Linked DNA regions of Homo sapiens. The protein of the gene in region 2 interacts with the protein of the main gene of each other region in a biochemical or structural test. Each region holds a gene or a part of one and is shown on either strand. Other genes may lie near its edges. The genes, in order: EPS15, AP1G1, SYNRG and HEATR5B.

Region 1 (8,839 bases), on a different chromosome or scaffold from region 2:
AAAGATAAAAATCTATGTAATCCAGTTAAACATACATAAGATTAGGATACATTTATTACATTGAAAGTTGGTGTTTATAAGTTATAGATATTTAATATTTGAGTTTAATTGAAAATTTTTTTGAAGCATTTAAACATTTGCTTATTTTCCCAGTGCAAAAGAAAGTTGTTCAAGTCAACTTACCTTTATCCTAAGGAGTAAGAGGAAGAAAATAAACAAAAATACCACCTATCACAACTCCCAGTCAAATTTTGCAGAAAATCCTTAGGTCACTGGATTCGTTTATCAAAATTAAGCCTTGTGATTATGATTCAGCCCTTGCTTCATATGTATGACTTTTATGCAGAAATGTTTCTATTTACAAAGGTAGAAAAAAGTTAGCAGTGCAAGATAGTGGTTTAAAGTTTGTTTTAAACTGTAGGAGTCTAATTGTGTAATGGAAAGAAAACAAAACAAGCACCATTTCAAGAAGAAATGAATTGGATATTTTGGAATTTATTTATAGGCTAGGCAATAAGTTACTCAGATTAACACAGATCAATACCACCTTGACTTGTTGACCCAGAGAATTCTAATTAGATTTTAGGTGCATTTTTCTTTATCTTGGTATTTAATACATCATCTAAGTCAGTAACCGTGTTAAACAAAATTAAAATGACAAGTTACAGCTTACTTCACAGTCTATTTCAAATTCAGCTTGTCCACTAGGTCAGTTTTACAGGAGATGGTCTTTTAACATGAAGAGGTCTGATAATCTGGCAGGTCTCTTCTCTCCCAATTAAAAAAACAAGAGTTTTTTTGCTAGCTTGACAATTTTATAGGTGAAAAACATGAAGTGAGTAAATAAACTAAACCACAAAGATGGACAAAAAGCAATATGATATAAAACACATCACTTTTTCTATTTGTATTCAGTGAAAGTTTTTACATTTCAAGTAAATGAGCCTTCATTAAAAAAAAAAAAACAAATATATATGAAAAATTAAAGTACCTTCCAGTTCTAGCTTGCTGAAGTTTCTTCTGCAAAAGTACAAAAATTAACCCACTAAGAACTAAACAGGACAGGGCCACGGCAAAGGCAGAATGGCTGCCATGTTAAGACTTTTGCTTGCCTTATACTGATGGGTATATTTTAGGTGATAAATTTTCTCCACTATCTATCACTTAAAATGAACATTTTCTTACAAACTTTATTTGTAAGAAACTGATTTTTATTAATTAGCAAACACACTGAGAGGTATCTGTTGATCTAAAATTCTCTAAATCCAGATAAATCTTTTTAAAAATTTATTTCACACATGAGGCTTTAATATTTTTAGTTAGGAAAAGATCGAATCTGAGGCTATAATGGTTCAACCTACAGCATCCCTTTTCCATAGTGGAGTAAATCTGTGCAAAATATTTTTCCTTATCTCTGAAAAACAAATTAAGTAGAGGAAATTTAAAAATGCACTTTAGCCAATTTGCACCAATCATAAAAGAAATAAGATATTCTTTCCCTTACCCTCACTCAACCATTCCAATCAGGGGAGAATACTGCAAACTTTAAGAACCTCACTGGCTATCATCAGAATAACTACAGAACAGGGTAGTGCAGGGTGAAACTATTTCTCTATATTCCAGAAGGCAGAAGCTTGGGTGCTCTAGCTTTACAAGTAAAATAGCACAGGCAGGCAAAAGCTCACAGTAAATGTATACCAGAACAGGGGCCTAAGTGAAGGTGAATTTGTCTGACTGGGTTACGGCTTTTATAAGAAAAAAAAAAAAAGACGAATCTGTAATGAAGAAAAAAAAAAAATCCTAAAATTTTGTCACATTTACAGGAATCTCAAACCTTTTGTATTCCCATGCTCACAGGTAGTTTTGATACACATTGTAAATAGTTTCAGTATTCAGGAAGAAGAATACTATATTGTTGCCAAAGAACAAGAGAATTCTTCATGCTTCTGATATCTCAGATTTGCTGAGTGCAATAGCCAGTTCTAAGTCTTCTTGTTCCTGCTGATTTAGTCGGGCAAGCCTCTGCTCTTCCTCTCTCTCACTTTCCCTCTTGGCCCATTCGATCATATCTTCTTCAGAGGGATACTGCCATTTAAAAGATCGATGAACAAACGAATAAATAAATGAGTAAAGCAAGTAAAAAGAAGGAAAAATAGTTTTTACAAAAGGACACCTGAAGGACTCTGGAAATAGTCTGGTTACTTGTTAATTCTTTTTTTTTTCCCCCTGAAAACATGTTTAATATTAACCAGTTATTAAGCTATAGTTTAATTTAAAAAATTAATTCAATCTATAGATAGAAAGTCTATAAAACTAAATGTTAAAAATGCCACTAGGCTAGATGTGGTGGCTCATGCCTGTAATCCCAGCACTTTGGAGGCTGAGGCAGGTGGATCACCTGAGGTCAGGAGTTCGAGACCAGCTTGGCCAACATGGCAAAACTCGCTCTCAACTAAAAATACAAAAATTAGCTGGGCATGGTGGTGGTGCCTGTAATCCCAGCTACTTGGGAGGGTGAGGCACATGAATCACTTGAACCCAGGAGGCAGAGGTTGCAGTGAGCCGAAAATGCACCCCTGCACTCCAGCCTGGGTGACAAAGTGAGATTCCATCTGAAAAAAAAAAAAAAAATATATATATATATATATATATATATATATATATATTTTTTTTTTTTAAATGTGATATATATATATATATATCTCACTAAAAAAAGTAGAAATGCTTATAGTAGATTAGAAGATTTAAAAACAGGACAGGGCTAGCCTTTTTGACCTAATGTAATGTAAAATATTTACCACTTCAACTTTACTGAGACCCTCACACAACAAATCATTTTTAATTTAATCCCACTGGTAGTTTCCTAACCCTTAATGTGTAAAAAAGCTAAGAAGCAAGAAAAAAAAAAAAAAGCTGATTTTGCTATACATCATATTAAAGTATTGGGTATACTAAGCAAGATGTGATTTAAACCTAATCTTTTTTTTTTTTTTTTGAGACAGAGTTTTCGCTCTTGTTGCCCAGGCTGGGTGCTATGGAGCAATCTTGGCTCACCACAACCTCCGCCTCCCGGGTTCAAGCGATTCTCTTGCCTCAGCCTCCCGAGTAGCTGGAATTACAAGCATGCACCACCACGCCCGGCTAATCCTGTATTTTTAGTAGAGATAGGGTTTCTTCATGTTGGTTAGGCTGATCTCGAACTCCTGACCTCAGGTGATCCGCCCATCTCGGCCTCCCAAGAACCTAATCATATTTTATAAAAAGCATTTTGAGCCAGGCATGGTGGCTGACATCTGTAATCCTAGTTCTGTGGGTGTGGGCCAATTGCTTGAGCTCAGAAGTTCAAGAAGTTCATCTTGGCAACATGGCAAAACTCTGTTTTTACAAAAAAAATTAGCCAGGTGTGGTGGTGCACATCTGTAGTTCCAGCTACCTGGGAGGATCACCTGAGCCTGGGAAGTTGAGGCTGCAGTGAGCTGTGATCATACCACCGCTCTCCAGCCAGATCGACGGAGTGAGCCAAAAAAAATAAAAATAAAACAAAAAGCATTATGAAGATTTCTCCAGGCTTTGGGAACTTTTAGACCAGTCTAAATAAAATCTTAACACTCATAATTATTATGTTGGGGAAATATTTTTATCTACCCCAAACAGCAACCTTGGCAAATACTAAATTAAAAATTCTAATTGGTTTCAAGTCTTGTTACATAGAAAATCCTTCATGAAAGGATGAAATAAAATACACTGTCAGGCTTTTGAAATGGTAGTTTTTTTCCCTAGGGAATTAAGCAAAACTTTGAAACGTGTAATGCTTAACCACATCTTTCACAATGAAAAAAGAAGATGTTCTTATTATAAGCTGTTTTTTATTATACTATATTGAGATTTTGGAGCAAAATGCCTCAGCTGTTGTTCAAGACTCCTTCCAACCAGATTTGTTTTTTTTTGTTTTTTTTTTTTTTTTTGAGGCGGAGTCTCGCTCTGTAACTCAGCTTGAGGACAGTGGCACTATATCAGCTCCCGCAACCTCTGCCTCTGGGGCTTAAGTGATCCTCCCACCTCAGCCTCCCTAGCTGGGATTACAGGCATGCGCCACCATGCCTGGCTAATTTTTGTATTTTTAGTAGAGACGGGGTTTCACCATGTTGGCCAGGCTGGTCTCACACTCCTGACCTCAAGTGATCCGCCCGCTTCGGCCTTCCAAAGTGCTGGGATTACAGGTGTGAGCCACCCCGTCTGGCCCCAACAAGAGTTTGACTTGCTAAAACCATACTTAAGATATTAAATGCCACAAACTACCAGAGGGTTATTTTACACTAAGAGAATTATAACCTTCTAAAAAGGCCAATTTTTGATTCTCTGCTTGAAACAAATCAAATTCCATCTAATGAAAGTTAAGTCGGGCTGGATGCGGTGGCTCACCCCTGTAATCCCATCACTTTGGGAGGCCAAGGCATGCACATTGCAAGATCAAGGGATCGAGACCATCCCGGCCAACATGGTGAAACCCCGTCTCTACTAAAAACACAAAAATTGGCTAGGTGTGGTGGTGCGTGCCTGTAGTCCCAGCTACTTGGGAGGCTGAGGCAGGAGAATTGCTTGAACCTGGGAGGTGGAGGTTGCAGTGAGCTGAGATTACGCCACTGCACTCCAGCCTGGCGACAGAGCAAGACTCTGTCTTTAAAAAAAAAAAAAAAAAAAAGGAAAGTTAAGTAAGGCTGGGCGCGATGGCTCACACCTGTAATCCCAACACTTTGAGAGGCTGAGGCCGGTGGATCGCCTGAGATCAGGAGTACAAGACCAGCCTGACCAACATGGAGAAACCCCGTCTCTACTAAAAATACAAAATTAGCCAGGTGTGGTGGGTATGCCTGCAATCCCAGCTACTCGGGAGGCTGAGGCAGGAGAATTGCTTGAACCTGGGAGGTGAAGGTTGTGGTGAGCCAAGATCGCGCCTCCAGCCTGGGCAATAAGAGCAAAACTCATCTCAAAAAAAAAAAAAAATCAGTATAATTCTGGCACTCCATTTTTACAATATTCAAAATATTGATTCCTATTTTGCTCCTTCATAGTCAAGAGAAGCCACCAGAACTTAGAGTACAGATTCAAAAGCTGGGAGCTCAGTCGTCTTAGTTGCATGCAGATTCTTTTTTTTTTTGGAGACAGGGTCTGGCTCTGTCACCCAGGCTGAAGTACAGTGGCATGATCACAGCTCACTGCAACCTCCACCACCTCAGCCCCCCAAGTAGCTGGGACTACAGGTGCTTAAAGCACTTTGGCCTCTTAAAATGCTGAGATTACAGGCGTGAGCCACCACGCCCGGCCTGCATGCAGATTCTTGACTACCTCCCTTCTAACTAGAAACAGCTGCAGGAATAAAGCAATTGGTTGAATGGCCCAATGCTACACTGAGGAGGGAAATATTAGGCAGAGTTACCTGGCCACTAGATCTATTTCCAAAATCATCTCAAGGGCATAAGGTGATAAATAGAAGAAAATCTCTGTTTTATAGAACAGGCAATGATAACGAAGGTTATTTTGCCTGAAAAAACTGTGAAACTGAAAATTTGTTACCCGGTCTAAGAATTTTATTAAAAAATAACTTTTTTTACTGAATAATGATGGAATATATGACATTGCTTTATGTCTCTCTAGACTGATACCTCCATGGTTGGTTGCCCCATTTCTGTGATTTTATAGGCCCTGCTTATGCTGTTATCATGGCACCCTTCCACTGTTTCTAACGATCTTCCTATTTTAGACATCTCTGAAAGAACGCAGAGTAAACATGAGAAGTTAGTGAATTAGGGCCCTCCAAATAAAGATTGTTTAAATCCTGACAACCATTTATTTATTTATTTCATAAAACTGGCATTTACATTTTTAAAAAGCTACTGTGTAAGTTTAATAGTTTTACTTTCTATTCAAAGAATCTCTGGCTCTATCCTCTCATATAATATTTGCTGACTGGTCTCCAGAAATCATTAAAACTTTATACACAAACACACATACACAGCTGCAAATACACAAACTTATTACTGGCATTATTCATCTAGTGGGCAGAGAGCAATGACTCTGTAATTGTTCATTAAATCACCATCACCCATAACCATCCACAAAATAATAACTGTTAGGATTTTACTTACATTACCAAGACTAAGAGAAAGATTTACAAAACAACTTGTGTATATGACAAGAACTGGGACTACTAAAATCATCTGTGCGATGGAACAACCGTAGAACTGTCAAAACAGGATCAAACAGAGGTTTTGCTTGGGGGAAGAATGAAAGATCATTTTTAGTATCTTGGTAAATTTAGTTAAAATGATGCAAACTTGGCAGACTCCAAAATAATCTCTGAAAACTCTTTAAAGATTTCTCCCCCAAACAGCTCATTCACAGTACTTACAGCACTGAAGTTGGCAAAATTGCTTGGATCAGCCTCTTTATTGGTAGTGGTAGTAGCAGAAGTGAATGGATCACAAAATATTTCAGGATCTTTTTCTTTGGGGCTATCGTTGCCTGGGAAAGGCTGAAATGGATCATTCAGTTTAAAGGGATCAGGAGAATCCAATTTGTTGATGGATCTTTTCCCTGGATCAAAATCATTACAATTAATTCAACCAGTAAATACAGCAAATACAAGCACACAAGAACATGTACACAGATAGCATTAAAGTACTGTGGGTAGAGGATGATTGAGTACCTAAAACACATTCTGAATATTGTCTTAAATAGCTACACCAACAATTTGTCCTCAAATTCTTCACACATGATCTCTCAAATAGATTCCAGCTATGTGCAGCTAATGAAACAAATAGCAAAGTAAGGATGGGCCAGGAATCATATTTTTGTCCAAAGACTGAATCCCACCATCCCCTAGCCACACCCAAGCAGCATGTTCCCAAAAGGAGAGACGAATGGATTAAACAGAAGGAGAATAATAAAGAATAAAGACAGAAATGGCCTGCCTCTGCTGTTACAGCCCTCAGCCTGATAACAGTTATCCACTAGTGGCAGTAAGAGCAAATGACCTCTGAAAACTGGGAAAATTCTTCTGATTTTTCTCTAGTTCTACATACAATACCTAAGAGCATAAAATTTTTAAATTACCGTAGTAAAATGCTGCCAATTTTTTGTTATTTACTGTATTTCAAAATGAAGAAAAAATGTTTTGAAGCCCAGGGCCTAAATCTTTGCGGTTGCTGATCAAATAATCTCTGACCAAACAATAGTATTCTGTCCTATTAGTCACTCACTAATTCATTACCATTTTCAAACAAGTTCTCTAAGTCTTACTTAAACTTAGTACTTCTTGAAGAAAAGATAATAAAAATAGGGGTCAAAATATCTCCAAATATATTTTTTTCCTAAAATGCATAAGCTGGTAATAGCAATCATAACAACAGATTCCATCACTGTAGCTGCTTAGAAAAGATGCTCATATCTCAATGGATTCTTCCAATAATCCTGTGAAAGTAGGCAAAATTAGAATTACTGCCAACATTTAATAGCCAAGGGTCAGATATATGAAATTATACACTTAAGATCATAGTTAGTCAGGGAACATCCAGAAACAGAACCCAGATATTTAGACTCCCAGTTTAGTGCTCTTTCCAACAAACCAGTCTTTTCCTTAATCTTTTTACAATGATATACAATTACTTGGATGAAGATTCTTAGATTGAGCAAAAACACTAGCATATTATTTTACTTAAGATTTAAAAAAACAACCTCACTATTGGCATCATGCAAGTTGTAAAAACTTAAATGTGCAAATTAACCATTATTTATTTTTAAATATATTCTGATAACCTCACTTCTAGAAATATATGACATAAGCTACCTTTCCTTAGAAGGAATCACTTAACTCATTTACCTGATTTTTCAACAGATTATCGGATATTTACAATTGTACATGCAATTCTTTCAGTCAAAGAAAAAAAACCTATCTGCTCAAGACCATGGAAAGGTTATGATGAAAAGGCAATATTAATCTGTAACTACTGAGACTGAAAATTTCCCAAGGAATGAGGTATGATTTAAAAAAAAATATACTAAGATGTGTCTTCTCACATAATACCCCAACAGCACTACAACTACTCAAGGAATTATCCTTTTAGCCACTTATTATGACCTAAAAACAAAACAAACTTTCCTTTGTATAGTGCTAAACATATACATACACACACATACTAATTATACATAGAAACAAACAAAAATAAGAAACAAATCACTATTAGAAAAGAGTCTTGGCCAGGTGCAGTGGCTCACACCTGTAATCCCAGCACTTTGGGAGGCCGAGGTGGACAGATCACTTGAGGTCAGGAGGTAGAGACCAGCGTGGCCAACATGGTGAAACCCCATCTCTGCTAAAAATACAAAAATTAGCCAGGCATGGTGGATCATGCCTATAATCCCAACTACTCGGGAGGCTGAGGCAGGAGAATCCCTTGAATCCGGGAGGCTGAGGTTACAGTGAGCTGAGATCATGCCACTGTACTCCAGCCTGGGCAACAGAGCGAGATTCCATCTCAAAAAAAAAAAAAAAAAAGAGGAATATTTTAAGTTAGCTAAAATACCATTTTCCTTCAAGAAAACCAATACTTTGTTTCAAATCACTGTATTGCTGAATTCTGGATACTAAAGAGGCCATATATTCTCACATTAAAGGATTTAAGGAAGACTTTATACTTTACAGGAAAAGGACTTTGAAACAATCTTCTCTTAAATAAATTATAATTAAAACACCAAAGTACAGGAAACTGCTATTCAAATGGATAATCAATGAGTTTCCAAAAGGCAAAAAGATTTTCTTGACACTTTCCCTTTTCCATTG
Region 2 (8,839 bases):
AAAAAAAAAAATACAAAAATTAGCCAGGCATGGTGGTGCATGCCAGTAGTCCCAGCTACTAGAACGGCTGAGGTGGGAGGACTGCCTGAACCAGGGCAGTCAAAGCTGAAGTGATCAGTGACCGCACCACTGCACTCCAGCTGGGTGACACAGCGAGACTCTGTCTTAAAAAAAGACAAGCCAGGTGCGGTGGCTTACGCCTGTAATCCCCGCACTTTGGGAAGTTGAGGCAAGAGGATTGCTTGAGGCCAAGAGTTCAAGACCAGCCTAGGCAACATAGCAAGACCACATCCCTACAAAAGTTAATATATACAAAATACACAGTTCATATAAAATAGACCATGAAATATAACTCATTTTGACTGGTCAAGCCTTCCTCTGCCCAGTCACAGATACACTTGAAAAATTCACAAAAAGCAGCTTATAAAGAAAACCCATAACCACCCTTAATATACATTTCATCTTGGTTTCTCTGCCTTGAGAATTGACCTATGGAGATTAAGCATGAAATTAATCATATTATAGTTAAAATGTCCAATTGCACTTAGGACTTTTTTACTGTCTATAACACAAGTTTGTTGTTGTTGTTGTTTTTGAGATGAAGTTTCACTCTTGTCACCCCAGGCTGGAGTGCAATGGCGTGATCTCGGCTCACTGTAACCTCCGCTTCCTGTGGTCAAGCAATTCTCCTGCCTCAGCCTCCCGAGTAGCTGGGATTACAGGCATGCGCCACCACACGTGGCTGATTTTGTATTTTTAGTAGAGACAGGGATTCTCCATGTTGGTCAGGCTGGTCTCTAACTCCCAACCTCAGGTGATCCGCCCACCTCGGCCTCCCAAAGTGCTGGGATTACAGGCGTGAGCCACCGCGCCTGGCTACAAGTTTTTAAGTGATTCAAATTCCTCTCTTGGTGAGACTTATGTGTGAAAGGAATACTAACAGGTCAGTAAGTTAGCTCAACCTCTGGAATAAGAATTCATCTAAGTCTTCTAATCCAATTGTAAGAAGCAAGGAAGCAAATTTTAAATCATTGGGTATTGACTTTTTATTATTAGTCACTGTTCATAATTTGTTTCAACCAAAAGACAGTACACACAGCAGAATTCTAATGCATCCCATGTAAATGTTTACATCCATTTTATTCCTCACTCGCCTCTAAGACTTATCATTTAACTTTAAATTTTTTTTTTTACATCTCAAAAATATGTCTGCAATAATTAGAGCTTCATTAGCTGTCCCACTTGGAAACAGCTTTTTAATATTTTTACAGTAAAGAAGATGTGATGGGGCATAATGAAAATGTAACTTACAACACTAAGAAAGAAAAGGGCCTTTATAGGAACACAGTGGGAGTTCATAAAGGAAAGAGTTCAGAAGCTCTTTCCCATGGGGCCCCCAAATGGAAAACAAAAACAAAACACACAAAGCGCAACCGCAGGTTCTTTGAGGGAAGAAAAAAAAAAAAAAAAAAACCAACTCCAAGGCTCCATCTTGAAGCCAGAATCAGCCTCTTGGAAGTCTGTAAAGCAACTGTGCAAGCTGCTTCGGCATTTCCTTCTGTTAAAGTGTTCCAGGTCCTGGAACCCTGTCGATGGGACCCACTCACTGATATTGCTTGAAAAAGTTATTCACTTCCAGTTCTACAAGCAGCCCCACTCTCCCGAGCCAAAGCTGGTCAAAAGTGTTTTAAACTTCAGGACTTTCTGTGCAATTCTCTCTCCAATGATCCTACCCACTCCCAAAGTCATGAATACACAGACATGTAAAACCACTCTCCCAACTACAAAGTTCATGAACACCCACTTTTTCCTCTCTAGTTTTCTCAGTTTAGGACACTGTGGTTAAAATACATTCACTAGAAAAAAATAGACACATTCAAACTCCTTTCCCCTAGTTCTCATGGCCCAAATATTTTCCAATGCAGAAGATAATGAAGTTGAACCTTGAAAGCAGTACTCCCTAACTTCCAATTTCTACGACATAAAAAAAATGGGAAGCATGTTATATAAACCATTAGTGTTGGACAGTTTTAAAAGTCTATTTTCATATATGAATGGGACAAACAAGGAGTACAAATCACACCTTTAAACTAGCAAGAGGAAAGAATCCCCTCCCAAATGTTACACTGAGGAATGTTTCTTTAAATGATAAAGACCTTAAAATTAACAGATGATCACTATGCACAGCCTAAAACTTCCGTGACTGTCCAAACCACCTCAAGGTAACAGCACCAAAGCACTGTGGGAGAAGCTTCTCAGGGAGAGCACCCTTCCTACAGTTTTTTGAGATTACTTAGATGAATTAATTCTCCTTTAGGATTCCCCGGGATGGGGCAGAAACTAGAATAGAAACGACTCTTGAAGAGGGAAATAATGAAGTACAAGTGCATGTGAAATTGTCAAAGTAAGTGTGTGAGGGCTCACTGCTTATCACCCCAGGGTTATCAAAACAGCCTTGGAAAATGCTCTTTCCTCACAATGCCTGTGAAGTCGTAAATCCATCCAAATTTGCTCCCCCTTGAGTGGTTATACTCGGGAAAGGAATTATTGAAATGTGCAAGTATTCAAAGAAATTGAAACATTTCTCCATTTAGCTGCAAGGCCAAGTGAGAGGAAAACTAATTCTGATCCTAGAAACTAAGGCACGCTGAAGCTTTCAAAGATCCAATCATTTGAAACAGTCTTCACAACCATCAGTATCCTAGGCAGTTATTTGGCTGCTAGTCCTTCAGTATGGTGCTTGTGTTCTGATTCCAAAATCAATTCATATTCTACGCAGCACCCTTTGTGTTAAGGCCATGATATTTTACTCCTTCTAGACAAAGCTATGAATGATCATAAACTCTACCTCGAAACTATGATCACCCAAGGAAATGCTCTGTCAGCAGAGTAGACCCTTCCCAGCTCCATTAGCTGACAGTGTCTTATAGCATGGTCTTGAACAGATTTCTTCAGAGATTCAACCCAGTTCAAATAAAAAAACCTGAGCTGGTTAGCTACAAATATAAGAGAGAAAATAAAGCCTCTACACAAAGAGGAATGTTAAGACAAATTCTATTCAAGAAATCCACCAACATTATGTTAATCCTATCATGTTTCACAGCATTAAGTATCCATCCAATGAAATCAGTCTGCAAAGAAACCCTTAAAGGCTATTTTTCATTGCACAGGCAGAGCAGTTGTCTGAAATATGCACTAGTCCACACTTACATTACTGAAAACTATGCAGGAGATATTATCCTGTTCTTGACTCAGTCAACCATTTACCCAGTGGAGTAAGTTTTAGCAGATCTTGCTCATACACACTAGTAAGACCAGAAACTTTCCCGTGGAGCCTTTAGTTCAACTCCAGTTTGTCAAATGTTAGGAATATTCCAGCATCTGATACAGAGCTAGATTTGACAAGACACTGAAGATTTTAAGTAAAGGCTTGGTGAAATGAAGGGGAAAAAAAGGGATATTTGTTTCCAGGTTTAAGATTGAAGCCATAGTAGTCATTATACTGTATTCAATACAGTAACAATTGCAAACATTGTAAGAGCAAGGTGGGCCTCACTTTTTCTTTCTTCAGTATATAAGACATGGCGCCTGAATACTTGAACATACATAGTACATTCAATGTGTACCACAGAGAGAGTCACCTCTACTTCATTCCAGCAACTCAATTTCAAAGTTTGATAACATATGGGTCCTTTCTAAAAAGCACTTGGCACTCTCACTAGTTTAAAAAGCTCAAGTCTTTGATGTGAATATTCATGAGATTCGTCTTTTAAAAGAGACCAATTTCTCAGACTGAGGAAAGGCTATTCCTACCCTATGGTGTCCGTAAGACCTCCTCTGACATAGGGGTATGGAAGCTACAAGGCTTCACTCCAACACCATAAAGTACAATATGGAAAGATTTCTTTAACCGTGTGGTCTTTATTTCAGTGCCAGTGTTACAGATACAACACAAATGTTCCAGTTAGAAGGAATTCAAACGGAATGCCAAGGTCCAAGCCAGGCTCAAGAAATAAAAAGGGAGGTTTGGAGTAATAGATAAGATGACTCCAATACTCACTCTTCCTAAGGGCAAAGGTACTTTTGATACAGAGTCTGATCTTTGAAACTGGTGAACTCCTCTTCCACCCATTACCATAGTTCAAACAGGCAAGTTATGGGCTTAGGAGCACTTTAAAATTTGTGGTGGGAATAGGGTCATTAATAACTATGAATATATCTTTTAGAAGGTGACCATTTTGCACTTTAAAGGGAATCAATTTTGAAAATCATGGAGACTATTCATGACTACAGCTAAAGAATGGCGAGAAAGGGGAGCTGGAAGAGCCTTGGAAGTTTCTATTACAAATAGAGCACCATATCCTTCATGCCAAATCTCAACAAAAGCTCTTTTTAACTCCATCTGTCCAGTGTTTACAAATAAACTCGCAAGGTCTGACCAGTTCTTGGTAACAAACATACATGTGTGTGTCTGTGTGTATACAGCAATGCACAGAAAAGGCTACCAGGAGCCTAATGCCTCTTTCAAACATTGGGGGAACCAGTAGAAAAAGGCAGGGCTCCCTAATGTCCATTATTACATTTCCATTCCGAATGCCAGATGTTAAAAGTGCCTGAAGATGGTAACCCAGCTAGTGAGGAATAAATACCCCACCTTGCCCAGTCCACAGAGAAACAACAGTAGAAAGAAGGGGCAACTCTTTGCTGCAGAGACAAAGTGAGTGTTTTTTCGCCATGGATTGCAGTCCTCTCCTCCAGACCAGCTGCTTATTTCCTCAGGGGCCCAGGGAATGTTGATTCTGGCTGTAAATGTGGGAGGGGTGGAGAAGTGCGGAAAAAGGAGAAGAGGAAGAGTGCAAAGTAGCCTCCAGAAGCAGCCAGCCTCAACAGTGGAGGAGAGGACATTAGTCTTTAACAATGCTTCAAGGTCAGCAGTAACTTTAGGAAAATCCTCCTCAGCAGTTCTCTTCAGCTCCTCATGCCCGTGGTACAGTTGGGGGGGACTTGCCAGCAATCACAACCTCCTTCCCAGAGTTCCTTTGATTGAGTGGGATAAAGAATGAGAATGGTGCCAAACCCTCATTGCCAGGACTGAGGGGGAAAGTTGTTCACCTCTGCTAGATCTTGCATTGCTGAGCCCTTGTGATTATATGTAAGCTTGATCCGCATTCGCAGCTGTTGCTATAAGAGGAAAAGAGAAGTGCAAATTATATACTGAAATGAAATCTCCAGAATCTGTCCGGTCCACAAATAGACTTTTAATCTTAGAGGTCAAAACTTAAAGCAAAGCTGTCTGTTAAGAATGACAGGTAAACAACAACAAAAAACACCCAGTACTCTAGGCTTGAGCCAAGAAGCTAACAATGTCATGCCACCAAGTTGAGAAAGCGCATCTGCAGAATACACGGTTAGCTTTAATCCTTGAACTGCATTAAAAGGACAGAACTCCTTGGGAGCATTTTTTCTTTTCTTTTCTTTTGAAACAGGGTTTTGTTCTTATTGCCCAGGCTGGAGTGCAGTGGCACAATCTTGGCTCACCGCCACACCAGACTAATATTTTTATTTTTAGTAGAGACGGGGTTTCACCATGTTGGCCAGGCTGGTCTTCAACTCCTGACCTCAGATAATACACCCACCTCAGCCTCCTAAAATGCTGGCATTACAGGCGTGAGCCACCATGGAGCATTCTCCTAGTAACATTTTGCTGAGTCCTTTTCAAAAAGATTCAAACCTTGTATCCAAGTCTCTTAAAAAATGAGGTGAACATATACTCATCGTACGCTCTCCATTCAGATACACTGTTGCTTTATCTGAAAAACCTACAGTAAATGTGAACATGACCTTTTGTTCCTAAAGCATAAAATTTTAAAAAATGACTTAACTCACAGGTAACAGCAGTAGTTTTAAGAGAACTCAATTAGACACTTTTTGTATGGCAGATTTCAAATACAAATGCACTAAGACATTTTTTACTCTCTGTATCAGATGGTCAAAGGAGTTTGTGCTTGTACTATAGAGGCCGATGCTCAAAATATAGTGAATAGCAGAGGAAAGGCAAGTGTTACAAGAGAAAGAAAGTATACTGTTACTTATGAGCAACTAGTAGAGCTCTATTAAAGAAATTCTCTGAACCATTTTCAAAAACTGAAAACCAACTGATTACTATTAAGGTGAGCTTATTTCTTTGAGAAGAGATAATAAAAATATTGCTTAATTTCAGTTTCTAAAGCTATTTTTCATTTGGCTGCTTCATTTAAAATGCCTCTATTTTTCTATTCATACTTAATAACTGTAGCAGTAAATGTAGGTATTTGGTTTCAACAAATGCTCTTACCTCAGATTTCAACTTGTGTATAAATTAAAATGTCTAAGCTTCTCCCCTACCCCCAAAAACCAGACCTTTAATCTAGCTTTTTTTGAAGTTGCATTTTAATAAGATGCCACTAAGCCACCTGATGTCTCTGGGTTCCATTTGTTATTTACAAAAGAGCAAGGAAGTTAGACCAGGCATTTTCATTGATCTCTTCTCTAACTATGAGTCAGAAAAACCTAAAGAAACAAAGCAGAATTTTATTTCGGGAAATATGCTTACACTTCGGCTCAGATATTGGCTACAAATGTGCTACTCACCTTCTGAGGGTTCAGAACTTTAATGACTTGTGTGATGGTCCCCGTGTTAAATGCTGGGACAATGCTGCTGCTAGGAGACAAGAGCTGCAGCTGGAATGTCTAGGGGGGAACAAAGGGCACTCTTCAGAAAAAGAATTACACAACGCTAGGTCAGAGATACCAAAAACCATTTAGACACCCAGATGATGGGTCAAGCAACAGATTTCACTACTACTAAGTTTTGCCTACTACTTGTTTTCTAGATATCAGGAATTCACAGCACGTGAGTTGACTCCCTGTGGTATTTGTAAAAATCCACTGTTCGGTTCTTTGATCATGACAACTAGTAATAAACCACATTCTCCTTTCTGGCAGAAGGAATTCTAGCCTACCTCTTTTCAAAAGCTGACCAATTCTTCTTCTGGCAACTTCACTTAATGGTAACTGATCAACTATGCAAGTAAAATATCGGTGCTTTTGGCTTAAAAAACAGCCAGAAAGAAATGAAAAGAAAAGCTTCCCAAAAATAGCAAACCAACATACTGGTCACCAACTATAAGCTTTTAGGCTTTTGTGTGATTGGATAACTGGGATGCAGAGACTTGAACTTTTGTTTTTTAAAGCCTGCATAATCTATAATGTGTCAGAGCCTCCTCTCCACATGACAGAAGGAACGGAAAGACTTGCAGAACCAGCCTATACAGCAAAAGACCTAGATAAGCCAAACAGTATTAATTTGTTGAATGCTGGTGGGGTTTATTTGCTTGCTTATAGAAATAAGAGTTGAAAGTGCTGGCTGGGTGTGGTGGCTCAAGCCTGTAATCCCAGCACTTTGGGAGGTCAAGGCGAGCGGATCACGAGGTCAGGAGTTCGAGACCAGCCTGGCCAACACAGTGAAACCCCGTCTCTACTAAAAATACAAAAATTAGCTGGGCATGGTGGCACATGCCTGTAGTCCCAGCTACTCGGGAGGCTGAGGCAGGAGAATCGCTTGAACCCAGGAGGTTGTGGTGAGCCGAGACTGTGCCACTGCACTCCAGCCTGGGCAACAGAGCAAGACTCCGTCTCAAAAAAAAAAAAAAAGTGCTATATAGGGCAAGCTAGGTAAACCATACTGTACTACGTAGCTATTGTATGAACTAGCATTTGAAAATCTTTCCTAAAAGTAGATTAAACTTCTAAAATATTTGAGAGAGAGAGACACTAGTCTTCTCTAGGGCCAAAAGTTGCAAGAGTGAAGATTCACTCTCAATGTACAGATATATTACACTGGGGGCTGGGCACGGTATTCCCAGCACTTTGGGAGGCCAAGGCGGGCAGATCACCTGAGGTCAGGAGATCTAGATTAGTCTGGTCAACATGGCAAAACCCCATCTCTACTAAAAATACAAAAATTAGCTGGGTATGGTGGCGCATGCCTGTAATCCCAGCTACTCAGGAGGCTGAGGCAAGAGATTTGCTTGAACCCAGGAGGCAGAGGTTGCCTGGGTGACAGAGTGAGACTCCATCTCAAAAAAAAAAAAAAAAAAAATATATATATATATATATATATATATATATGGTCTTATTCATAATTCTGCCACATTAAAATTATGTAAGCTAAAGTATTATTCATTACTACCATATTTCATTAAATGTAAGATACCAATCGTAATTCACACCATTATTTTATGTACCACTGAGATAGAAAACATGCTGCCCACTGAATTATGACAAGATACCAATTTTTAAATGTATCCTAATTTTAGAAACATTAAAACACGAAATTAGTACATAGTAGAACCTATAAAATATGACTTTTTTTTTTTTTTTAGATGGAGTCTCGCTCTGTCGCCCAGGCTGGAGTGCAGTGGTGCGATCTCGGCTCACTGCAAGCTCCATCTCCCAGGTTCATGCCATTCTCCTGCCTCAGCCTCCTGAGTAGCTGGGACTACAGGCGCCCGCCACCACGCCCGGCTAATTTATTATTTATTTATTTATTTATTTATTTATTTATTTATTTATTTATTTATTTTTTGAGACGAGTCTCGCTCTGTTGCCCAGGCTGGAGTCCAGTGGGGTGATCTCGGCTCACTGCAAGCTCCACCTCCCGGGCTCACGCCATTCTCCCGCCTCAGCCTCCCAAGTAGCTGACACTACAGGCGCCCGCCACCACGCCCGGCTAATTTTTTTTTTTTTTTTTTTTTTAGTAGAGACGGGGTTTCACCGTGTTAGCCAGGATGGTCTCAAT
Region 3 (8,839 bases), on a different chromosome or scaffold from region 2:
CACCTGGTACTGTTCAACTGACCACACACCTGTGATCTCCCTCCTTTAATATAACATGCTCCAGTTGGCACCTCCAGCCTCTAATAAGTACCATCATAGGAATATACACTCTGCTTTACAACTTAGGTTTCTGGAAAGGAAAGCAACTGCTGAGTTGTCTCATGGGCTTACTGTGAGTGTGGCGAGTGACATGAAGCCGATTAGGTTATTCCATACTTTATCGATGTCCTTCAGCAACTGCTGGAGTTTCTCACTGCACACTGCAGTGGCTTTTATCCCCAGCTCCACACGCTTGGTTACCCTGTACACTTCAACAACACCTGACGGGATGAGAGAGCAGAGAGAGAGTGTTGGCAGTGGAGACACAGAGGACCCAGACAGGGGAGCATTATTGCTTGCTGATATCTGTGAGAAACAATGGGTGTATCTGGACAGAGGTGTACTTACTATTCTTTGGGACCAATCCACTTCTCAATGCTGCTGTATAGCTTACTGGTAAGAGCATAGAAGCTGCACTGCTTGGGTTCAAACCCCAGCTATGCCTCTTACTGGCTACATGACCTTAGGCAAGTCACATAATCTCTCTGTACCTCAGTTTCCTCATCTGTGAAGTTGGGATGGTAACAGTAGCTCCTCCAAGGATGGTTGAGAGGATTAAATAGGGTAATATGGTAAAAGGCTTACAACAGTGCTTGGAGAATGGCAGGCACTATGCAAGTTATTAGCTTTTGTTTTTTGGGAGGTTTATTTATGAGTCCATCTGTTTGAATCTGGGAAATCCCAATAAACTAGCTGAAAATGGGGATAGTAAAAATTTAAAAGAATCTAAATGTTAATAGCATCACAAAGTAATGAAGAAACATCTCACCCCTCTGAATCTGAAGGTCTTACAAACACTTTGACTTCACTTATCTTTAAACACATAACAGGATGCAGAACAGTTCTTTTCCTATGGTCTCTAAATTGTGGTTGAACTCTTGAAGCAAGGATGAGAGGTGCTAAGTACCTCCACATTCTAAGGACAGCCACCAGACACATCCCTAACCCCTGCAATGTAACAGTCACCAAAGACATGACCCCGATCTCTCTAAGTGAACACTGGAGGAATTCCAGGGGATCTTCAGAGCGGGGCCTCAGCAGCCCTGTGTCAGCACTACGGCTTTTCTTCTTCCTTTCCCAAGAGAGGGGCAGAAATTACTGCCCACCCTAAGCCAAGTGAGGGGGCTTCTAAGAGAATCTTCCATAGATACAAGGATACTAGGAGAAAAGACAGGTGCCCCATTTCCTGGTGGACATCTGCTTATGCAGAACTGTGCCTGTTTGAGCAGGAAAAGAAGACCCCAAGTGAGGTGGCAGGAGTAAGGCAGAGACTACATCCCTTCACTCTCCACTCATCCAGCAAATATTTTTGAGTGCCAACTACGTGCAAGACACTAGATTAGGTGTTGGGGACACACCAGTGAACAAAACAGACCAAAATCCTTGCCTTCTTGGAGGTTCATTCTAGTGAAGGGAGACAGAGAGTAAAAACAACAAGTAGCTAGGTGCAGTGGCTCACGCCTGTGATCCCAGCACTTCGGGAGGCCAAGGTGGGTGGGTCGCTTGAGCTCAGGAGTTCGAGACCAGCCTGGGCAACATGGCGGAAACCTGTCTCTACAAAAACTACAAAAATTAGCTGGGTGCATGGTGGTGCACACCTGTGGTTCCAGCTACTTGGGAGGCTGAGGTGGGATGATTGCTTGCGCCTGGGAGGTGGACGCTGCAGTGAGTCATGACTACATCACTACACTCCAACCTGGGTGACAGAGTGTGAACCTGTCTTAAAAAAGAAAAGAAAAGAAAAGAATAATAAGTAACATATGTAAGAAATTAAAGGTAATAGGGCTAAGGAGAAAATCCAGCAGAGAATGGGATGGGAAGTACCGGGGTAGGGAGAGACGATACTCTTTGGAGAGATGGATGCTAGGAAAGATTTCACTCAGAAGCTGACATTTGAGTAAAGATTTGAAAAAGATTAGGGTCCAGCATGTGTGGCTCTGGCCACGGGCCAAGCCTGAGCTTGGGGAAGGGAGGAACACCGAAGTGGACAGAGACTACACTTTCCCGTTGGACTGACACATCAAATTGCTGCAGATGGCCAGGAGGTTAAGGACTCTGTGGTGTCATTAAGCGGTCGAGAGAAAGAATATAGAGTATGGTAAGGAATTGATGGGAGACAAGATGATTTTACTTTAGTGCATCGGTAGTTCAGATTCTTTGATAAACCAGTAACACAGATATAATTTTACATTTTTGCTATTACGTATATAACAAGGATGAGGAAACTTAGCCATAGAGACTTTTTAATTAAGTCCAATAGTTTACTGCCTGTAGCTTGAGTGTCTTACCCACAAATACAGATGCTTCTTACTGAAGTCATATGTAACTTGAGAGATCTAGCTTAAAATAATTAAAGGGAAAACTGAAAATAATGCAAAGGGCCATCATTTTCAATAGTAAAATATGAAAGAACATACCTAATAAATATTCCATGCCTTGAGCTGACTGAATTACTTCTGTGCAAACAGAACTACTACTGATTCCATTTAAGGTATCATTTGCCTTCTTAATGACCTACAAGAAATGAAATCACATCACCTTACATAACTGAGAAAAGTCATTGCAAATCAATTTACTATTAGTAGAAAACCCAACCGAAAAGCCAGGAGGTGTCAAAAAATCTCATTTTATCCTTGAAGAAACAATCCTCCATTTCTCTGGAAGAGAAAATATGTTTTTTTCCTTTTGTTTTGTTTTGCTTTGTTTTGAGACGGAGTCTCGCTCTGTAGCACAGGTTGGAGTGCAGTGGCAAGATCTCGGCTCACTGAACCCCTGACTCCCGGGTTCAAGTGATTCTCCTGCCTCAGTTTCCTGAGTAGCTGAGATTACAGGCACGTGCCACCACGCCTGGCTAATTTTTGCATTTTTAGTAGAGACAGGGTTTCACCATGTTGGTCAGGCTGGTCTCAAACTCCTGACCTCGTGATCCGCCCGCCTTGGCCTCCCAAAGTGCTGGGATTATAGGTGTTGAGCCACCGCACCCAGCCAAGACAGGTTCTTTAGCTTAAATATTATTTTGATTTAGTCAGAGTTAATGAAATCACTTTGTTATTTCTTAAACACAATGACAGATGAGGGGATGACTGACACATGAGCCGGTCTGCTATTGTAAGTGTGAAAGAAGCCTCACCTTAGATGCATGACTTCCACAGAGTTACTCTTTGCCCAGGGACATCCAAGTAAGGCTCTCCTGAAGTTTGCCTCTGTCAATTCAAATGAACCAAGAAGGCAAAAAGGCACAAAAGAGCACTCACATATGTGTGAACGCGTAAGTGACATACTCACATTCAGGGCACTCCCCAGGCATCTCTGCCATTCATATGCATATCTCTCATTTTCCTGTGAATTTGTTAAAAAGAACTGGGTTAAACACACAAACCTGGAATCTTCTATTGATGACTCTGTCAATTCAAAGTGCTTGGAGGACTTTCCTTTTTATTACGATCACTCTAGTTCAAGCAGTTTATGTTTTTTTTGTTTTTGTTTTTGTTTTGAGATAGGGTCTTGCTCTGTTGCCCAGGCTGAAGTGCAGTGGCATGATTTCTGCTCACTGCACTGGACGCAAGCAATCCTCCCACCTCAGCCTCCAGAGCAGCTGGGACTACAGGCACGCACCACCACATGAGGCTAATTTTTGTATTTTTGGTAGAGGTGGGGTTTCACCATGTTGCTCAGGCTTGTCTTGAACTCCTGAGCTCGAGTGATCTGCCCGACTTGGCCTTCCAAAGTGCTGAGATTACAGGCATGAGCCACCATGCCCAGCCGCAGTTTATCTTTTTGAACTCACTAATAACTATGTTAAATTACTAATAAATGTAACTTCTGAGCACAGGACCTGTGAGTCTAAGGGACATGCTTTCCAGCAGCTTCCCCCTGTGAGTGTTGCCTCATTTGTTCCATCAGTAACAGTGTAAGCCTTTCTTCGGAGGCACTCAGCATGTAGCTATCTGGTACAGAAACTGCTATTAAGCCACTGGCTTTCCACGCCCCAGTTATAACGCTGTGTGGCTGTGTGTGAGGACGTGGCCCATGTGCACATGTAACAAGGAGTAGGGAAAGGTGGGAAATTAAGTGTGTTGACCATAGGAGGAACATAGCGTGGCACTAAGATGCAGCAGACAGAAATAAAAAATTCAGAATATTTTCCCTGTCTCCTCTATTTTGAGGTTTCATGAAGACAATAAAGTCTAAGTGCTCAAGAAGAATTATACAAACACTGCCATCCTTGTGAAGTCCCATGAATAGTTTTGGTTTTAGGGTCACTGATTAGTTTCAGTGGGTGCCACACCTGGGAAATGTTTTCACCCAGGGCTAATGTTACCCTTGCCTCACTTTAATTACATAGTTTATGTCTGGTGCTTTGTGTCTTTCTGCCCCTCATTTTCCCCATGTGAAAGCTGACAGCATTCTTTCTTGGGGCCCTGTGTGCTTGCTGGTCTGTTACCCACCCCTTGTAGAAAGCTCTCCTCTCACCTCCACCTCTCCCGTCAGGTCTTTGTACTTGTCTCGGATGACGGGCAGGGCGGGCTTCTCATTCAGAGTATTGGAACGGTCTCTGAAAGGCTGCTCCAAAGCTGGAGAAGGAGAAGAACGGCTTATTTCTTTATCACCAAGGCTCAAACTCCTCTTGTGTGATCCTGGGAGAAGGGGATAATACAGTCAAAGGTTTTGGCTACTCACCTTAGTTCAGGCAGAGGCTCTTCCTCGCTACCACAACCCTCTTCTTTTTTTTTTTTTTTTTTTTTTGAGACAGATTCTTGCTCTGTCGCTCAGACTGGAGTACGGTGGTGTGATCTCGGCTCAGTGCAACCTCCGCCTCCTGGGTTCAAGCAATTCTCCTGCCTCAGCCTCCTGAGTAGCTGGGACTACAGGTGCACACCATCATGCCTGGCTAATTTTTGTATTTTTAGTAGATACACGGTTTCATTGTGTTGGCCAGGCTGGTCTCGAACTCCTGATCTCAAGTTATCTGCCTGCCTCCCCTCCCAAAGCGTTGAGATTACAGGTGTGAGCCACCGCGCCCAGCCCACGACCCTCTTCTTCAGATGCTTATGTCATGAGGCATTCACAAACACATTCCTCATTCATTCTTTCTGGGAAGCTACATGTTAAATCTTTTCTACTGTTCTCTCTTGCACGGTTTCCCTGCGTTTCGTTTTCAACATGACTCTTCTCTGATCTATCACAAGTCTTCCATAATGCCCAGTGCAGAATCACTGGAGTCTGGAGAACAAAAGCACCTTTCTAAATATCAGTATGTAAGAGTTGTGTGGCTTTTCCAGTCATTTGTTATGGATTTGTAACCGAGTTCCTTCACAGTCTCTCAATCCAGTTGAAATCAACGACCCCTCCTGTCAGGATGAGATTAAAGCAGAAGAGGCAAACTCAAATGCCTTCAGAGACCAGGCAAGTAAAGTGAACAACTTAAGTAGGTCCGCTGAGACAGGAAGCGGTGGGGATTATGGTAGGAGAGAGAGAATGACCCACCTACAGGGAGTGGTGCTCTTCGGCTCCAGCTGCCAACATATGGGACTGTAGACCTACTAGTGCCAGATATTATGACTTCTCAAGAAAAGTTGGAAATCCAGATTGGGAAATCTCATGTCTTTTAAATACTGGCAATTACTTCGTACTTAAAAATCTTTTGTGTGGGTCAATGTGATATGCAGGCTAGATGCAGATCCCCGGCCCCCACTTTGCAACCTTTGGATTAAAAGACATTATCTGTGCTCAGGGAACATGAGCGGAGCTAATGTGCCTACAAGTGGCTCGAATCCATTTATCTGGCTCTTTTAACACAGCACACCTCTAACCAAACGAGCTAATGAGCAATACCTGCATGCTGTGCTTGTTTTTAGCCCATAAAGCAGTTATCTGAGGGATGCTGATTTTGACTCCCGTCTCAGGGAAATCTTTATTATAGCTATCTGTAATTGACCCTGATTTCAAAGATTAGAACAATCTATTTCCTGCGAAACCAGAGAGCAACATTTTATTCTTAAGAACATCTAACATCTCAGTGGAAAAAAACCACAATAGTAAAATCTACCTTGGAAGCTACTCACCTTGAACAGAAAGGTCAAAGGTTGCCAGCTCACTTTTGATCATTTCTTCACTGGATTTCATTTTGCTTTGTGAAGTGGCTACTAAGAAGTCAAATTTGCTGATTTTGGGCTTTTCACTTTGAAACTCTCCAAAGTCATCCGAACATTCGTTCGGGGTTTCTTGAGAGGCACCACTGGACGCTGGGCTGGGACACGTGGCCTCCTGGCTCCGTTCAGCCGTAGGCAGGTCCTGTTTTGTGAAATCTTTATAGTCTCTGTTTTCATATTCCTTTTGCTCACTGGTCTGAGGAATCGTGTCTTTAAAACTGGCAAGAGCTGGGAAGGTGGTCTCTGGAAGAGCATCTTCACTTACAAAGGTCGTTACTTTGGAGAGAGATGTCATGGTGATGTTTTCAGAACTGCCAAATGAAGTCTCTTTCTTTTGAAGAATTGAGGTGGCTGAGGGGGATCCACTTCCTGCTGAGAGGACAAATGGAGAGAGTTTTCTGCCCTGAGTTGCATCATCCCTGTCTGACCAGTCATAGCTTGTAAGTGTGCTCACTGCAAAATTGCTACTGTAGCTTCCAAAAGCAGCATATTTTAAGTCCTCTATATCTGAAAGGGAAATAAGACCCCACAATTAGAGGCAAGCAATTTAGGCAAAATGCCCTAAACTCTGTAGAAGCAAAATGCCTAGCATATTTGATTAGTTTTATACTATGTTGAAATTAGCTAAATTTAGAGTTTGTACTAAAATTAAGAGTTGGGCTGTAAAATCTGATCTTAAAAAAACCCACATTAGCCTTGAGTTGGCATTTACATTTAGTTACCAAGAACCATTTTCTTTGGCTATAAAAATTACTAAAAAAAGATAGGAGGTTCATCTACCAAAGTATACACTGTTTGATATAAGATTAGGGTCATTTAATAAATTGTTCCCTTATCAACTTAAAAATGTACTGATATTCCTTGCCTAAAACATGTCTCCCTTCATCTTGACTTTGTTGGAAAATGTGCCTTTAAAACATGGTCATGTGAAATGCACATGGCAAAATAATTAAAAGTTGACAGTTTCTCAAAACTAAAATGAAAATAATGTCATCTAACTTTTAATCAATTATTAGGGTTTCTGTCATAATATTATCAATTATTAGAATTTCTGTCTCAGGCAATGCCAAACATGAGATTTTAATCAAGCAATTACTTACCTAGTTGTTATTTTGGTCAAATTGGACGTCATATTGCTGTGATGAAGTATGAGGAAAGAAAATCAATCTGATCTACTTTAGCCCTTAAAAAAATACAATAAAAAGATCTGGGTCCTGTTGGGCTCCACTTTTTCCTTCAACTATGTATCTACTCCCCATTTTTTAAAAAAAAAGGAAAGAAGAAAAAGAAAGAACTGCTGGGGCAGACGACTGATTTTACAAAGCATTCTTAATATATAGTTAAGTAATTTAAGAGGTAGCATAAAACAGCATAAAGAATGTAGGTTTTTGATTTGGAAAGACCTGAGTTCAACCTTGCTACCTACTATTTGTATGACACTAGGCTAATGATTGAACATTTCTGAACCTCAGTTTGCTTATCAGTAAAATGAGGAGAGGAGAAGACCATGTACTTGGAAGGACTGTGTTATGACCATCAACCATGATCATGTGTGTAAAAGGCCAGGTTGGTGCCTGGTGAGCAATACATAATAGCTAGTGTCTGCTCAGCATAGGTGCCACCAGCCTCAACTTGACAGTTAATTGCTGCTTTAGGGCCTACAGTGGAATTTCAAAGCAAAAATGAAAAGTCAACTCAGCATTTTAGTGGTGTTACTAGGAGAAAATTTTCTTGCTCATTTTCAGAAAGCAAAACCAGCCGAGACTGAATTTGGCTGGTGTGGAGAAGTGGGTTGATATGCATTTCGTTTCATTGTAGTCACTGTACATGAGGCAAGAAGGCCAAATATGAGACTCTCCCTCTGACAACCACATATGTGATTTACAAGGAAAGTGCTCAAAAGTTTTATGACCTAGATTTTCAGAACTAAGTCAATAAGTGAACCAACTTGGAGTCATTCTTCTCTTTCATTCACAGCAATACTGCATAATTTATGAGGGGTAAGAAGCTCCTGACATTTCCATAGCTCTTCTAATGGTATAATCCAAATCTCTCTTTCTTTGAGCTGTTAGGAAAGGGGTGCTAAGTGAATAATAAAAACAAAAAACACTAGTTGTACAAAAAACCAACCAGCAAAAAGCAAACAGCTTTCACAGAATGATGGCATATTTAAAAATTCTGTGGTGCAATGGTACCCTTCAAATGTGGTTTATAAAACAGAAGGAAAAAACGACTCAGGTGAAAAGTTTTTTTTTTTTTTTAATTGATTTTTTGAGATGGAGTTTCACTCTTGTCACCCAGCCTGGAGTGCAATGGCGCGATCTCGGCTCACTACAACCTCCGCCTCCTGGGTTCAAGCGATTCTCCGGTCTCAGCCTCTCGATTAGTTGGGATTACAGGCAGCCGCCACCACGCCTGGCTAGTTTTTGTATTTTGAGTAGAGACGGGGTTTCACCATGTTGGCCAGGCTGGTCTTGAACTCCTGACTTCAGGTGATCCGCCCGTCTCGGCCTCCCAAAGTGCTGGAATTACAGGCATGAGCCATTGTGCCTGGCCTCAGGTGAAAAATTTATAGTTTAGAATGAATG
Region 4 (4,817 bases), on a different chromosome or scaffold from region 2:
TCTTATACAAATCTATTAAACCTACATTAGATCTTTTCTTTGAGAAATATTGCCTAATTGCGTAGCTCACTCCGATTTTACCCTTCATAGAATTTATTTGGTATTTGTAACCAACCAAATAAAATCCCAAAGTATTCCTCAGTTTTGTGATTCTCTTGGTGAATTCTATACGGAAATGCTACCCACGTTTTTTAGCACTTAGTACTCTAATTGTTCTATGTGCTGTCTACTGTTTTCATTTAGATAATAAAAGAATCCAGGTAGAAACAAATTATGTAACATTTCCTATAATGCTTAGCATATTTCTAGATATTTGATGAATACTTAAATAACTTATATTTTTTCCAGTTTTATATATATATATATATATATATTTTTTTTTTTTTTTTGAGACAGAGTTTCACTCTTGTTGCCCAGGCTGGAGTGCAGTGGCCTGATCTTGGCTCACTGCAACCTCCGCCTCCCGAGTTCAAGTGATTCTCCTGCCTCAGCCTCAGGAGTAGCTGGGATTACAGGCGCCTGCCACCACGTCCAGCTAATTTGTTATATTTTTAGTAGAGATAGGGTTTCACCATGTTGGCCAGGCTGGTCTCGAACTCCTGGCCTCAGGTGATCCACCCGCCTCAGCCTCCCAAAGTGCTGAGATTACAGGCATGAGCCACTGCGTCCGGCCTCCAGTTATATTTTAAAATTGTTAAAACCAAAACCTTAATTTTCAACCTACTGTTGAAAACCTACTATTGAAACCTCTTCCAATTTAGCAAGCCAATATACTGAAGATAATTTTATATATATTTTATAATTCTCTACTTTATTTTTATTATGAAAGCCAGCTTTTATAATACTATTAACTTTTTTTTTTGAAAGGGAGTCTCGCTTTGTCGCCCATGCTGGAGTGCAATGGCACGATCTCTGCTCGCTGAGACCTCTGCCTCCCAGGTTCAAGCGATTCTCCTGCCTCAGCCTCCAGAGTAGCTGGGATTACAGGCATGTGCCACCACACCCAGCTAATATTTTTGGGTTTTTTTGTTTTGTTTTGTTTTGTTTTTTGAGACAGAGTTTCGCTCTTGTTGCCCAGGCTGGAGTGCAATGGCACGATCTCGGCTCACCACAACCTCCGCCTTCCAGATTCAAGCGATTCTCCTGCCTCAGTCTCCCTAGTAGCTGGGATTACAGGCATGCGCCACCATGCCCGGCTAATTTTTTTTTTTTTTTTGTATTTTTAGTAGAGATAGGGTTTCTCCATGTTGGTTAGGCTGGTCTCAAACTCCTGACCAGGGGATCCGCCCACCTTGGCCTCCCAAAGTGCTAGGATTACAGGCATGAGCCCACCGCGCCTACCCCTATAATACTATTAACATTGTACATGAGGGAAATTGAACTAAATCTAGAAGATTGGAGGATTTACCTGGGACTTTAAAAATAAGCTTTTTACCTCTTTTCTGAAAACTTAATATGGAAACAAATCCATTTAATTGGAAACTTCTGGGTAGTTGCCAAGAGAAAGAGTATGTATGTTTATTCATTCAAAGCATAGTTACTGGATGGCTGTGTACCAGGTAGTGTTCTAGGCATTGAGAATTTCTCGTGAAATAAAACAGGCAAAGGTCCCTGATCTCATGGAGCTTACATTTCTGGTAGGAAAACACAGACAATAAACACTTCTCGTCCCCTATACGTGTGTGTGTGTGTGTGTGTGTGTGTGTGTGTGTGTGTGTGTGTGTGTATCTGTGTCTGTTATATGTAGACATGTATCTTTGTGCAATTTTATATAGTGATGATGGATATATCAATTTTAGATGTAGATATAACATCTATAGTTAGATGCAGGAATTGATAGGAGCTGTGAAGAAAAAAATACAGCAGGGAAAGAAAATAGGGAGTAAGGTCCAGGGTGGAACTGGGATTCTGGAAAGGCTTCACTGATTATTATCACTGTCCTTGCTGACATCAGTGAGTGTCACACATTCTCTACCAGATGCTTCCTCCTGCCTTACAATTGCGTCAGTTGTCATTCTACAAAAATTAACAGTAATTAAGGGGGAGAACGCGTAATTCTCAATGTGATTATGAGATGTTATACACACACACAATTACATATAAAGGTTAATTGTTAAAAAAAATCACCTTTAATGAAACTTATATCCCAGGATGGAGTTGTTAATATAAGTAAAGACAAAAGACTAACAAAAGGAGATGAAGCCTCCAAATAAATACTTTTTTAAGGACTTGGAATTTATATCAGTCGGACATAGGTTCTTGTTTTTTTAACCCTAAGCTTATGTATTCCCTTAGTTTTGAGGAATTTCCCCTCACTGTGAGTTTTGGGGGATGATGAAATAGGAAAAAAGTTGTATTGTATTTCTACTTAAAGAGGAAAGAAACAACTAGTGTTAGTTAAATAATGGTAAATAGATGCTTTTCAGGTTTCTGTTCCTCACTCCAATCTCCTGATTCTAGAATGCCCGTAAAAATTTTATAATCTTACTCTCAAGATACATTCTACCAGGTGGCAATTGTAAAGTGTTTTATTACTTTTTAACCTTTGGCCCTTTTTTTTTTTTAAGTAAAGCAAATTAATATAAATGTAAAATATACAATATTAACAAACCTGGTTTCCAGCTTGTACATTTAGTAAATATTTAATATTAATTACGAGTTATTGAGGTCTAAAGTAGGCTGTGCATGTGTACTTATATTTTATTATGTTCAGTCTTCCATGGCAATTGCCTAGTTTTTAAAGTTTATTATAATCCTTATGTTTGTGATCTTTTTTCATACTTTATTATTTACAGGAGTCCAGCTACTTGCTCTTTTAGTTCCCACTTTGATATCTTACCTGCTGGATGAAAATTCTTTTGCCTCAGCAAGTTCAGCTTCCAAAGATCTTCATGAGTTTGCACTCCAGAATTTAATGCATATTGGACCTCTGTATCCACATGCTTTCAAGACAGTAATGGGGGCTGCTCCTGAGTTGAAAGTGCGTCTAGAAACTGCCGTTCGAGCAAGCCAAGCGAGCAAAGCTAAAGCGGCTGCCAGACAACCAGCCCCCGCCATACATTCTGCACCAACAATTAAGCTAAAAACAAGTTTTTTTTAATTTGTAATTTCATTTATTTGTATTTATGTTGTCAACTAGCCCCTAATTAGTGATGGCCACTGTATCATTCCAGGCTACCTATGGGTTCTGTTTTATTTGTATATTGGTATTATAGTGCTTCCAAGTAGGTTAAGTGAAATAATGCTCACACCACTTATTGATTTTTAAGGAGTGATTTTTTTTATCATGTGGTGAATATGTTTTCATTTTCCTCCTAATAATGTTTCTCTTTTGTTAACTTATTTATTTTTCAAACACTGAGCCATAGTCTTAAATTTAAATGCTAAAAACAATTGTATCATGTAGTCGGGCAGCCTATTGATACTGTCAGGGGAAAAAAATGGGTCAGAACTCAGCATCTGTCATGAAAAAAATCAATTGAAAAACAAGCAGATTTTAAATTTTGAAGTAATCAAAATAATGGAAAGTGTCTGTTTTGTGGTGTATATACTATGAATAAAATCACAGCATTTTCTAAGCATTTCCCAAAATGTCCTTATCTTTCTGATGGATCTTTTAGCTTTCATATCAAATTACTAAATTATGCTATGTATATTTTAGTTGGTAACAATTAAAATTCTCATTTAAAGGTTCACTAAAATGTTTAAATGTAATATAATATTCTGCTTTTTTTAATGGCTAAAATTTGGCTTCAGTTATGTTTTGTAATTACAGAACCTCAAGTTCTGGCTATGATGGTTAGTTTCCTTCATCAAATATTTATTGAATGCCTACTGTGTATAAGGCATCAAGCTAAGTGCTGCAGGGGATACAAAAATGAATTAGGCATAATTACAGTGATGCCATTCTTTCATGTAGTGGGCATTTTACCGTACGAAATAGATAATTCACACAATGAATGTTTGCCACAGCATTTAGCAAATTTTAAACACCAAGTTTTACCGCACAGTGTAACAGACTGAACAAGTATTATCAAAAGCAAGTCACTTTCTGAACATTTATCTTCTTTTCTCTTTTCCTTTCTTTTCCTTTTTCTTTTAGAGACAGAGTCTTGCACTGTTGCCCAGACTGGAGTGCAATCATAGCTCACTACACTTGAACTCCACTCAGCCTTTTAGATACCTGAGATAGGTACTTTGTCTTGCCTGTTTTCTCACTGACTTTTGGGTGTTTTTTTCTTTTCTTTTTTCTTTTCTTTTTTTTTTAGATGGAGTCTCTCTCTGTCGCGCCCAGGCTAGAGTGCAGTCGCGCGGTCTTGGCTCACTGCAACCTCCGCCTCCTGGGTTCAAGCAATTCTCCTGCCTCAGCCTCCTGAATAGCTGACATTACAGGCACCCGCCACCACACCCAGCTAATTTGTATTTTTAGTAGAGACGGGGCTTCATGTTGGTCAGGCTGGTCTCGAACTCCTGACCTCAGGTGATCTGCCTGCCTCTGTCTCCCAAAGTGCTGGGATTACAGGCGTGAGCCACCATGCCCAGCTTCTTTTCATTTTTGTTTTGTTTTGTTTTGTTTTGAAGCAGGGTCTCACTTTTGCCCAGGCTGGAGTGCAGTGGCACATGACCACGGCTCACTGCAGCCTCAATCACCCAGGCTTGAATGATCCTCCCACCTCAGCCTGCCAAAGTGCTGGGATTACAGGCGTGAGCCACCACACTTGGCGCTGGTTGTTTTTTCATTTCAGGTTTGCATTGCCACAATTATTCTCCTTGGTTTTTGTTTTTGTTTTCGCTAACAACTTCATGGAGATCCAGTT

What was found.
Region 1: the proteins of AP1G1 (region 2) and EPS15 form a complex in vitro, tested with the Homo sapiens proteins (2 studies listed by BioGRID).
Region 3: the proteins of AP1G1 (region 2) and SYNRG form a complex in vitro, tested with the Homo sapiens proteins (2 studies listed by BioGRID).
Region 4: the proteins of AP1G1 (region 2) and HEATR5B form a complex in vitro, tested with the Homo sapiens proteins (one study listed by BioGRID).

What each region holds. Positions count from the first base shown.
Region 1 is NC_000001.11:51,354,762-51,363,600, forward strand, and holds part of EPS15 (epidermal growth factor receptor substrate 15), read right to left. Parts: intron 6,595-8,839; coding exon 6,410-6,594; intron 2,086-6,409; coding exon 1,939-2,085; 3' UTR 1-1,938. UniProt on the Homo sapiens protein: Involved in cell growth regulation. May be involved in the regulation of mitogenic signals and control of cell proliferation. Involved in the internalization of ligand-inducible receptors of the receptor tyrosine kinase (RTK) type, in particular EGFR.
Region 2 is NC_000016.10:71,727,979-71,736,817, forward strand, and holds the end of AP1G1 (AP-1 complex subunit gamma-1), read right to left. Parts: intron 6,730-8,839; coding exon 6,631-6,729; intron 5,182-6,630; coding exon 5,080-5,181; 3' UTR 1,022-5,079; downstream 1-1,021. UniProt on the Homo sapiens protein: Subunit of clathrin-associated adaptor protein complex 1 that plays a role in protein sorting in the late-Golgi/trans-Golgi network (TGN) and/or endosomes.
Region 3 is NC_000017.11:37,535,808-37,544,646, forward strand, and holds part of SYNRG (synergin gamma), read right to left. Parts: intron 6,759-8,839; coding exon 6,165-6,758; intron 4,737-6,164; coding exon 4,573-4,736; intron 3,439-4,572; coding exon 3,385-3,438; intron 2,614-3,384; coding exon 2,517-2,613; intron 321-2,516; coding exon 172-320; intron 1-171. UniProt on the Homo sapiens protein: Plays a role in endocytosis and/or membrane trafficking at the trans-Golgi network (TGN). May act by linking the adapter protein complex AP-1 to other proteins. Component of clathrin-coated vesicles.
Region 4 is NC_000002.12:36,979,773-36,984,589, reverse strand, and holds the end of HEATR5B (HEAT repeat-containing protein 5B), read left to right. Parts: intron 1-2,795; coding exon 2,796-3,100; 3' UTR 3,101-3,695; downstream 3,696-4,817.